Linked DNA regions of Homo sapiens. The protein of the gene in region 2 interacts with the protein of the main gene of each other region in a pairwise test. Each region holds a gene or a part of one and is shown on either strand. Other genes may lie near its edges.

Region 1 (4,085 bases), on a different chromosome or scaffold from region 2:
GAAGAATGGGCGCCTGTAGTCCCAGCTACTTGGGAGCCTGAGGCAGGAGAATCGCTTTAACCCGGGAGACGAGGTTGCAGTGAGCCTAGGTCCCGCCATTGCACTCCAGCCTGGGCCACAGAGCGAGGCTCCATCTCAAAAAATAAAATTTAAAAAAAAAAAATTCAGCTTTCACGGAGAATTACTACTGCCTGGTGCCATCAGATCCCAAATACTGGAGGCATTCCCAATGTTCTGTTCACAAACTGTGCAATCTGTGATAGCCCCTCTTGTGAATATAATCAAAGTGAAAGATGCCAGTATACTTATTGCTATGCTTAAAAGAACTGCAGATCTATCATATCCTTTTGAAACCAAAAAATGTGGAAGTCTCCCTGGCTAGATGCTGTGTGTCCACGTATCCTGCACCAATTGCTTGAAAGTCACATGACAACCTTTCTTCCTTTAGGGAAGGAAGCAAGCAAGGTAGGACTCTGTGTGTTACAGCCAGTGTGGGTAACTAAGGACTGAGGGAGGTGTGGGCACTTGCATAGCTAGTGCCGCCAATACCATAGGAGCGTTGACACTAAACGGCACTTCTCTATTAAGTTGCCCTGCTGTCTTCTAACGAGTCATTTTGAAAAACGGTTGTCCGTTTTTCAACTACTTGGGTGAGGGCAGCTTCATGAAAAAAGCTCATCGTATGTTAAAGAAGGTAGGGTTTCAATTGTGAGCTATAAAGCCACCAGAGGAGATTTCTCCTATAGAAGGAAGGTGTGTTTCCTGCTTGGACACCTGAATTTGCAACCCATCCTTTCTTTTTTCCTTTTTCCTTTTTTTTTTTTGCAACCCATCCGTTCTATCTTTGTAGCCTCAGCTCCTACCATAGTGCCTGTCACGGAGCAGCTAATCGACACAGTGACGCGTGTAAGTTATTTGAAGCCACTTCCTGCGCAGTGGAACGTCCCCGCCAAGTCTCCCGGCACTGCTGGGTGTAGTCCCAATTAAAACACTAGGTTTCAACAACACAAGGAGGGTCCGCAGGGTCCCCGGACTACCCACCAAGGGTCGGCTCTGCTTTGAAACGCAGCTGCAGGAGGCCGAGGAGCGCCGCGATGCCCCAGTTATCCAGGCCATTCCTTCCCCGGCCGAAGCTGGCCGCCTGCATGCACCTAACCTTGCGCTAGGCACTGGCTGCGGTTAATCCAGCCCGCGCTCGGTCCTCCGCGATCCCAGCCTCCCTTGCGCCAAGGACACGTCCGGCGGCTTCGCGGGGCCTGTCTACGCCACCGCGGCGCTTTTCTATGATCCGCTGCCGCTTTCCGAGCGAGTGTCATGGCGGCCGGCGTCGAGTTGGCAGGAGTAACCCACGGAACTGAGGAAAGTCATTAGAGCTGAGAAAGAAGTGGCCCAATCTGGACGGTGGGAATTCGTGGGAATGAGCAGAAGGCCCTCCGTAGGTGACTGTGTCACTAGAGGCGGGCCCCTGGTAAAATTCCAGGCCAGGCCTCTGCGTTTCTAGGCAGAACCTGGAGTCGGCCTTGCCTGAGAACCCAGCTTTGTGTTATCGTATCCTGTCTCGCGAAGGCAGGCGTTCAAGGATATTTGGTCGGATCGCCCGGCGGCGCTAAACGTTTTCTTTTTTCCGAGCGGACCGGGTCGTTCTCTAAACTCGCCGCGATGTCGTCCTGGCTTGGGGGCCTCGGCTCCGGATTGGGCCAGTCTCTGGGTCAAGTCGGGGGCAGCCTGGCTTCCCTCACTGGCCAGATATCAAACTTTACAAAGGATATGCTGATGGAGGGCACGGAGGAAGTGGAAGGTAACAGCTGGAGCGAGGGAAGGGAGGGCTTTTCTAAGACCCTGGGAACGTCCGTTTGGTCCCTACTTCCATCAGTCAGGAGACGCGGACAGGTCGCAAAGGAATGCTGCTCCTCCCTTTTTTCTTCACACACCTCCTCTTGCCTCTTCTCAACAGATTTTCTATGATGAAAGACCACTGGGGGCCAGGGGAAGAGTCCTGGTTCTCCTCTCTTTAAATATTCTGGATATCTCAAAGTACAGTAGAGTGAAACTGCTCCTACGTTAAGTCGAGTTTATTTTCGTTTGGTTGATCCACGCCCACCACTTTGCCCTCAGTTTGGGGGCTGATCTCATTCTTAACATCTTCCTGTATTCTGACCCAGTTTAAAGAATTGTATATCTGTTTTCTATTTTTGTAACAGTTGAAATAACTCATAATTTAAACACTTGGTGAGTTTTGCTCTTTTCTGTCTTGAGTATGTTATGAAACACGGCCATGTTTTTCTATTTAATTATTTTTTACTTTTCCTTATTGTGATGATACATTATAGCGTTCCAGCTGAGAATGTATTTTTGTGTATAATCGCCCATTTCGCCCATATTTCGACAGTAGAATAGGGAAGACAACCCTATTCTTAAGGTACCCTTAGCAATCTTCACTCATTTTTGAAGTCCTCAATCTCGTTTTACTAATGAATAGTGACCCAGAGTTACATGGTAATCAATGGCTACATTAGTTACTATCCATTAATTACTATTTTGATTTCTTGGCATTTTAGTAAGCAATGTTTGGATCAAAACAGTTTTTAAGTTTCAATCTAAGTCTGCTCCAGGGAGATAATGGGCTGTTCTTTTGGGTGAGAGCTGCTGCTTTGACAATTGTATTTCTTATAAATAAATTTAATAAATTAGTATTCTGGCTTAGTTTTTTTTTTTAATTGCTAATTTAACAGATCCTTCATATTTATTTGGTAGAAATCGGGAAAGATTGTTTGATAGAAAGATAATGCTTATGTTTTGAATTTCTGTGGGGTCTATTTAGATGGAAGGAAGAATAGACTGGGGAGCTACCGAAATCCATTTTACCGCTTTACGTTCCCCATGCCATAAAGGTGCATCAGTGAGACAGCTTTGGGGATAGAAATGAAAGGGCTTCTTTATGTGTGGGGGAAAGCATGGGACCTTGAGGGCAGTCAGAAGCACAGAAGGGCTGGATAACTATGGGAAATGACTGGTCGCTCCTTGTATCCTAGATAGGGGAAAACGGTTGGCTGTTCCTTAGACCCTAAGCCAGAGAATATGCATCCCTCAACCTGGATGTCTTCCAGGTTTAAGGTGGTGTTCATTTTGTTCTCCTGCCAAATGTGCTGTTTTCTCATTCTTAATAGCTTCACTCTCAGTTTCCTAAACTGTAAATCTTCGTGTCCTTGTTTTATGTCTTTTTTCATCTCCTACTTCCAGTTGGTCATGATATCTTGTTTATCCTATGCCAGAATTGTCCTTTGCTTTATTACTCCTTATTCTTTAGATCCCTATAATCTTTCCCAGGGACTATTCCTCTTTCATGTCCTGTCACCCATTTCTCCCTACCCCAGTCCATTTTCTATTGTATTGTCAGTTACTTTCTAAAAACAAACCTGCGTAAAAATTTCTTGACCCTGTTACAGAATAAAATCCAAACCTCTTAGTTTTGGACTGAGTCTCACTCTGTTGCGTAGGCTGGATGCAGTGGCGCGATCTCGGCTCGCTGCAACCTTCGCCTCCCGGGTTCAAGCAATTCTCCTGCCTCAGCCTCCCAAGTAGCTGGGATTACAGGCGTGTGCCACCACACCTGGCTAATTTTTGTATTTTTAGTAGAGATGGGGTTTCGCCATGTTGGCCAGGCTGATCTCGAACTCCTGAGACCGCAGGTGATCCTCCTGCCTTGGCCTCCCAGAGTGCTGGGATTACAGGCGTGAGCCACCGCACCCGACCTTCAATGTACCTTTTCTAGTTGCCATACCAGTTGCTGTACATGTGCACATATATATGCTTGCTTGTACGCACAGCTTCTGTCGTGTGGGATTTTGTCAGGCACTTACACAACTTCAAGCCTCTACATGGAAAGCCCTTTCTTCTCTATTTCCTCCTTCACCCAGAAAACAATTCTCCTGTACAACCCTGCTCATATGTCAGGTACTTAAGTACTTGGTGAACCATTCTGACTCCCACACAGGTTGAGTTGTTGAGTTGAATGTTGGTGATCTGTGTTCTAACAGAACTTTGTGGATCTCTCCCTGACAGCATTTAACATGTTGAGTTATAAT
Region 2 (4,797 bases):
GCCACGCCCTCACCTCGGACCTCCAGCTTGCACTCAGCCAGCGCCTCGCCCAGCTCGTTGACGGCCCGGCAGGTGTAAGTCCCAGCGTCGAAGGGCGAGGGGCGACGGATGTTCAGCGTCAGGACTCCTTGGTAATTGGTTATCAGGAACTTGGGATCTTCACGGATTTCCATCTTGTTCTTCATCCAGACCACCTTCGGCTGTTGAGAGTCAAGGGAGAGGAGGCCAACTTAGAGAGAGACCCTGGGCAATGATGACAAAATGGGGCTCAGGAAGCCGATCTGGGTTCTAGGCTCTGCCACCCTCTTGCCAGATGTTCTTGGACGAGTCACTTCTCCCTGACCCTCAGTCTCCTCTTATGTAAAAGCAGGTTGATAATCCCACTTCACAGGGTAACGGTGGGGTCTTCCCATTGCTCTCAGGACAAAGAGCTCACTGTTTGTAGTGGCCCACAGGGTCCCACACTCTTTGACCCCCATTACTTCTCTGCTCCAGCCAAACAGGCTACCTCACTGTCCTTCAAACAGACCAGACAGGCACCCACCTCAGGACGCTGGCACTGGCTGTTCCCTCTTCCATAGTGCCCTTCCCTTTTTTTTTTTTTTTTGAGACAGAATCTCGCTTTGTCTCCCAGGCTGGAGTGCAGTGGCGTGATCTTGGCTCACTGTAACCTCCACCTCCCGGGTTTAAGCAATTATCCTGCCTCAGCTTCCCAAGTGGTTGGGATTAGAGGCGCCTGCCACCATGCCTGGCTAGTTTTTGTATTTTTAGTAGAGATGGGGTTTCACCATGTTGGCCAGGCTGGTCTCAAACTCCTGACCTCAGGTGATCTGCCCGCCTCGGCCTCCCAAAGTGCTGGGATTACAGGTGTGAGCCACCGTGTCTGGCCCAGCCCTTCATAATTTTATATTATTTATGTGACTCTGGGCAAATGTCAGTCTCCCCCAACATACAGGAAATTTCTTGTTCGAATCACCCAGGTCATTGAAAGCCTCTGAAAATGTTTGTTGTAAGAATAAATGGAGTGAATAAATGAATGAGAGCACGAAACAGTGCTGTAAATAAGCAAATGGAGTGAAGGAATGAACTGAGTAAATGGATGGATTGGTAGGTGGATAAATGAGTGGAATGAGTGACATGAATGAGTGGAGTTAGTGAATACAGTATACAGAGATGGAGACATGGTATGCCTTAAGGAGGCTGAAGCGAATAACCTACAGCCCAGACCAGAAGCTGGCAAACTGTTCCTATAAAGGACCAGATGGTAAATAATTCAGGCTTTTTGGGCCCTGTAGTCTCTGGGCCTGGAACGCGAGCCACGCACATTTATTTACATTTTGTCTGCAGTAGCTGTAAACAAAACATAAACAAATATGCTTGGCCCGTGTTCCAATAAAACTTTATTGAGAGAAACAGGTGGTGGGTGGATTTGACCCATGGGTGATGGTTTGCCAACCCCTGGTCTAAATGAGCTCTAGGTTGCAAGTGTCCCTGTTCACAAAGAGCAGTTGGAAAATGGCTGGACAGGAAGACCCTGGGGAGCCGTGCTGGTCTAGGCTGCCCCTGCTCCCAACGTTTCTTTTTCCATGGGACTGGCATTTGTCCTTGGACAGAGCAAGAGAGACTTAATGGTCCTCTCCTCAAGCTGCCGAGACAAGCTGTTACCTGGCAGTCAGGGGACAAAGAAAAAGGCAAGAGGCCAGGAGCGGTGGCTCATGCCTGTAATCCCAGCACTTTGGGAGGCTGAGGCAGGCGGATCACCTGAGGTCAGCAAAACGCCGTCTCTACTAAAAATACAAAATTTAGCTGGGCATGGTGGTGCACGCCTGTAATCCTAGCTACTCAGGAGGCTGAGACAGGAGAATCGCTTGAACTTGGGAGGCGGTTGCAGTGAGCCAAGATCGCACCACTGCACTCCAGCCTGGTCTCAGGAAAGAAAGAAAAAAAAAGAAAGAAAGAAGGAAAAAGGCAGGAAGCCAAAGGCAAGATGTGATTGATTGTCTGAGACTTGGGCTCTGGTCAGAGGAGCTAACAGGAAGTGGGTGAAAAGTGAGCAAGTCCAGTCTGGGCGTGGTGGCTCACACCTGTAATCCCAGCACTTTGGGAGGCCGAGGCGGGAGAATCACTTGAGCCTAGGAGTTCAAGACCAGCCTGGACAACATAGCAAGACCCCATCTCTACAAATTATAAAATTAGCTGGCCACAGTGGTTCATGCCTGTGGTCCCAGCTACTCGGGAGGATGAGGTAGGAGGATCACTTGAACCCAGGAGGTCAAAGTTGCAGTGAGCTGTGATCGTGCCACTGCACTCCAGCCTGGGTGATACAGCAAGACCCTGTCTCAAAAAAAAAAAAAATCAAAAATCAATTAAAAAAATTTTTTAAGTGACTAAATCCCTTGAGACAGAGAACTCGGGGAAGAAGAACTGGCGTGATGGGGAGTGGGCTTCATTGTATGGAAGATTCCCCACAAGGCAACACACACGCAGATCTGGGTCCCTGCCCTGGCACCTTCGGGTGGCCTCTGACAGCACAGTTGAGGGCTGCCGAGTACCCAGCCACGACCACGCGGTCTATGAGAGGTGTCAGGAACTTGGGAGCCATCCGGAAGTCATGCTCCTTATACTCGAACGGTTTGAAGGTGATTCCTGGGGAGAGAGGATGCACCCGTAAGGCGACTGATCTAGATTCTCCCCTGACACCAACCAGGGAACAAACCGCAATCACCTCTCTCCCATGACTAGGTGCCGTCAACCCCAGTGGGGAGGGGAGGGCAGGAGTCCAGGTGGGACCTGGGCGAGAGGGTGGACGGGGTGGGCCTGGGCTGTGGGGCAGGATGGCTGTACCTGTCTTGAGGATGCGGGCCGTGTTCTTGGAGACACCAGGTGAGTCACTGAGCCCACAGATGTTCTCGGTGTAAACTCGGAAATAGTATTCATTGCCCACGATAAGGTCGGACACAGTACAGCTAGTGTGCCTGTTACGTTCATAGACGTTGAACCACTCCTAGTGTGGGGACAGGGAGGGACCAGGCGGGTCGGGGCCACAGGATCACACGATTACACACAAGACACAGACGAAAGAAGGGGTGAGAAAAGCACATCCAGTGTTTAAAAAAATGTCACTCATGGCGCACTACTCACAGTGGCCAACAGGTGGAACCAACCCAGCGCCCATCAGCGCAGGGATGGACAAACAAAACAGTCGGCCCAGACAAAGGAACATCATTCAACGCTAAGAAGGGGTCAGGCACCGTGGCTCATGCCTGTAATCCCAGCTCTTTGGGAGGCCGAGGTGGGAGGCTCGCTTGAGCCTGGGAGTTTGAGACCAGAGTGGGCAACCCGGCGAGACCCTTGTCTGTTAAAAAAATCAAAAAATTAGCCAGGTCTGGTGGCCAGCACCTGTAGTCCCAGCTACTTGGGAGGCTGAGGGAGGAGGATTGCCTGAACCTGCGGGTTGGAGGCTGCAGTGAGCCATGATCATGCCACTGCATTCCAGCTTGGGTGACAGAGTAAGACCCTGTCTCAAAAAAAAAAAAAAAATTTAAAAGAAATAAAGGCCAGGTGCAGTGGCTCATGCCTGTAATCCCAACACTTTGGGAGGCCAAGGTGGGAGGATGACTTGGGTCCAGGAGTTCGAGACCAGCCTGGACAACATACTGAGACCCTGTCTCTACAAAAATTAGCGGGATGTGGTGGCACGTGCCTGTATTCCCAGCTACATGGGAGGCTGAGATGGGGGGGAATCACCTGAGCTCAGAGGCAGAGAAGGCAGTGAGCCAAGATTGCACCACTGCACTCCAGCCTGGGTGACAGAGTAAGACCCTGTCTCAAAAAAAAGAATTCTAAAAACAGGATTTCTGCATGGACACACCCGGCACCCTGCAGCATGGATGAACTTCAAAGACGTTGTGCTGAGCTAACAAAGTCAGACACAAGGGTCACATAGCTAGGATTCCATGTGTATGAAATGTCCAGAGTAGGTAAATCCAGGGAGACAGAAAGCAAATCGGTGGCTGCCAGGGGAGACCAGGGGGTAGCGCTATTGGGTACAGGGCTTCCTCTGGGGGATGAAAATGGACTGGGTAGAGGCGGTGGCTGCACAACCCTGCAGATGTCCTAAGTGCTGCTGAATTGTTCGCTTTAAAACGATGAATGACTAATTCCGTTATGTGACGTTTACCTCAGTGAAAAAAGAAAATGAAAACCCATCACGTGCCAAGTCTCAGCTAAAAGGCTTCCCTCCTGGCCCCAGCCCGTCCTCTAGCCTCTGGGCCCCTCCCTGCCCTTCCAGCTGTGAACGGGGGACATCTGCACCTGCTCTGCCCACCTCACCGGCTCTTCCCCATCTCCCCCTCTGCTCTCTCACCATGGTTTTTTTGTCTGCTTTCTGGACGAAATACCCCATGATCTCACTGTTCCCATCATCTTTGGGGGCCTGCCACTCCACCAGCGCGTTCGTGCCCCACACCTCCTTCACCATCACGTTTATGGGGGGCCCAGCCTTTTCTGGAAATGGGGAAGTGTGACAAGTCAGTCCAGGTTTTGGGATGTCCAGCCGCTTCCCTCCCCTCCCCTCTCCACACCCCCTCCCTCCTGATTCTAACCTCTCTTATGCCCCATTCCCATTCCTGCCTATGGCCTCCCCCATCCCAGTCTCTCCACTTCCTCTTATCCTGGGCCACCCTCATCCCTCCTCACCTCCTCTCCTCACCCCCATGTCTCCCCACTTCCTCTCTTCACCCAATCTCCCTCTCAAGGGTTCCCCCATCTTCATCTCTCCTCCACTCCTAGCCCTGG

What was found. Proteins that work in one complex are often made in the same cells at the same time.
Region 1: the proteins of MYBPC2 (region 2) and TRIP11 interact in a two-hybrid assay, tested with the Homo sapiens proteins (one large-scale study listed by BioGRID and IntAct).

Annotation. Positions count from the first base shown.
Region 1 is NC_000014.9:92,037,260-92,041,344, reverse strand, and holds the start of TRIP11 (thyroid receptor-interacting protein 11), read left to right. Parts: upstream 1-1,285; 5' UTR 1,286-1,659; coding exon 1,660-1,798; intron 1,799-4,085.
Region 2 is NC_000019.10:50,459,749-50,464,545, reverse strand, and holds part of MYBPC2 (myosin-binding protein C, fast-type), read right to left. Parts: intron 4,507-4,797; coding exon 4,367-4,506; intron 3,005-4,366; coding exon 2,845-3,004; intron 2,647-2,844; coding exon 2,510-2,646; intron 201-2,509; coding exon 14-200; intron 1-13. UniProt on the Homo sapiens protein: Thick filament-associated protein located in the crossbridge region of vertebrate striated muscle a bands. In vitro it binds MHC, F-actin and native thin filaments, and modifies the activity of actin-activated myosin ATPase.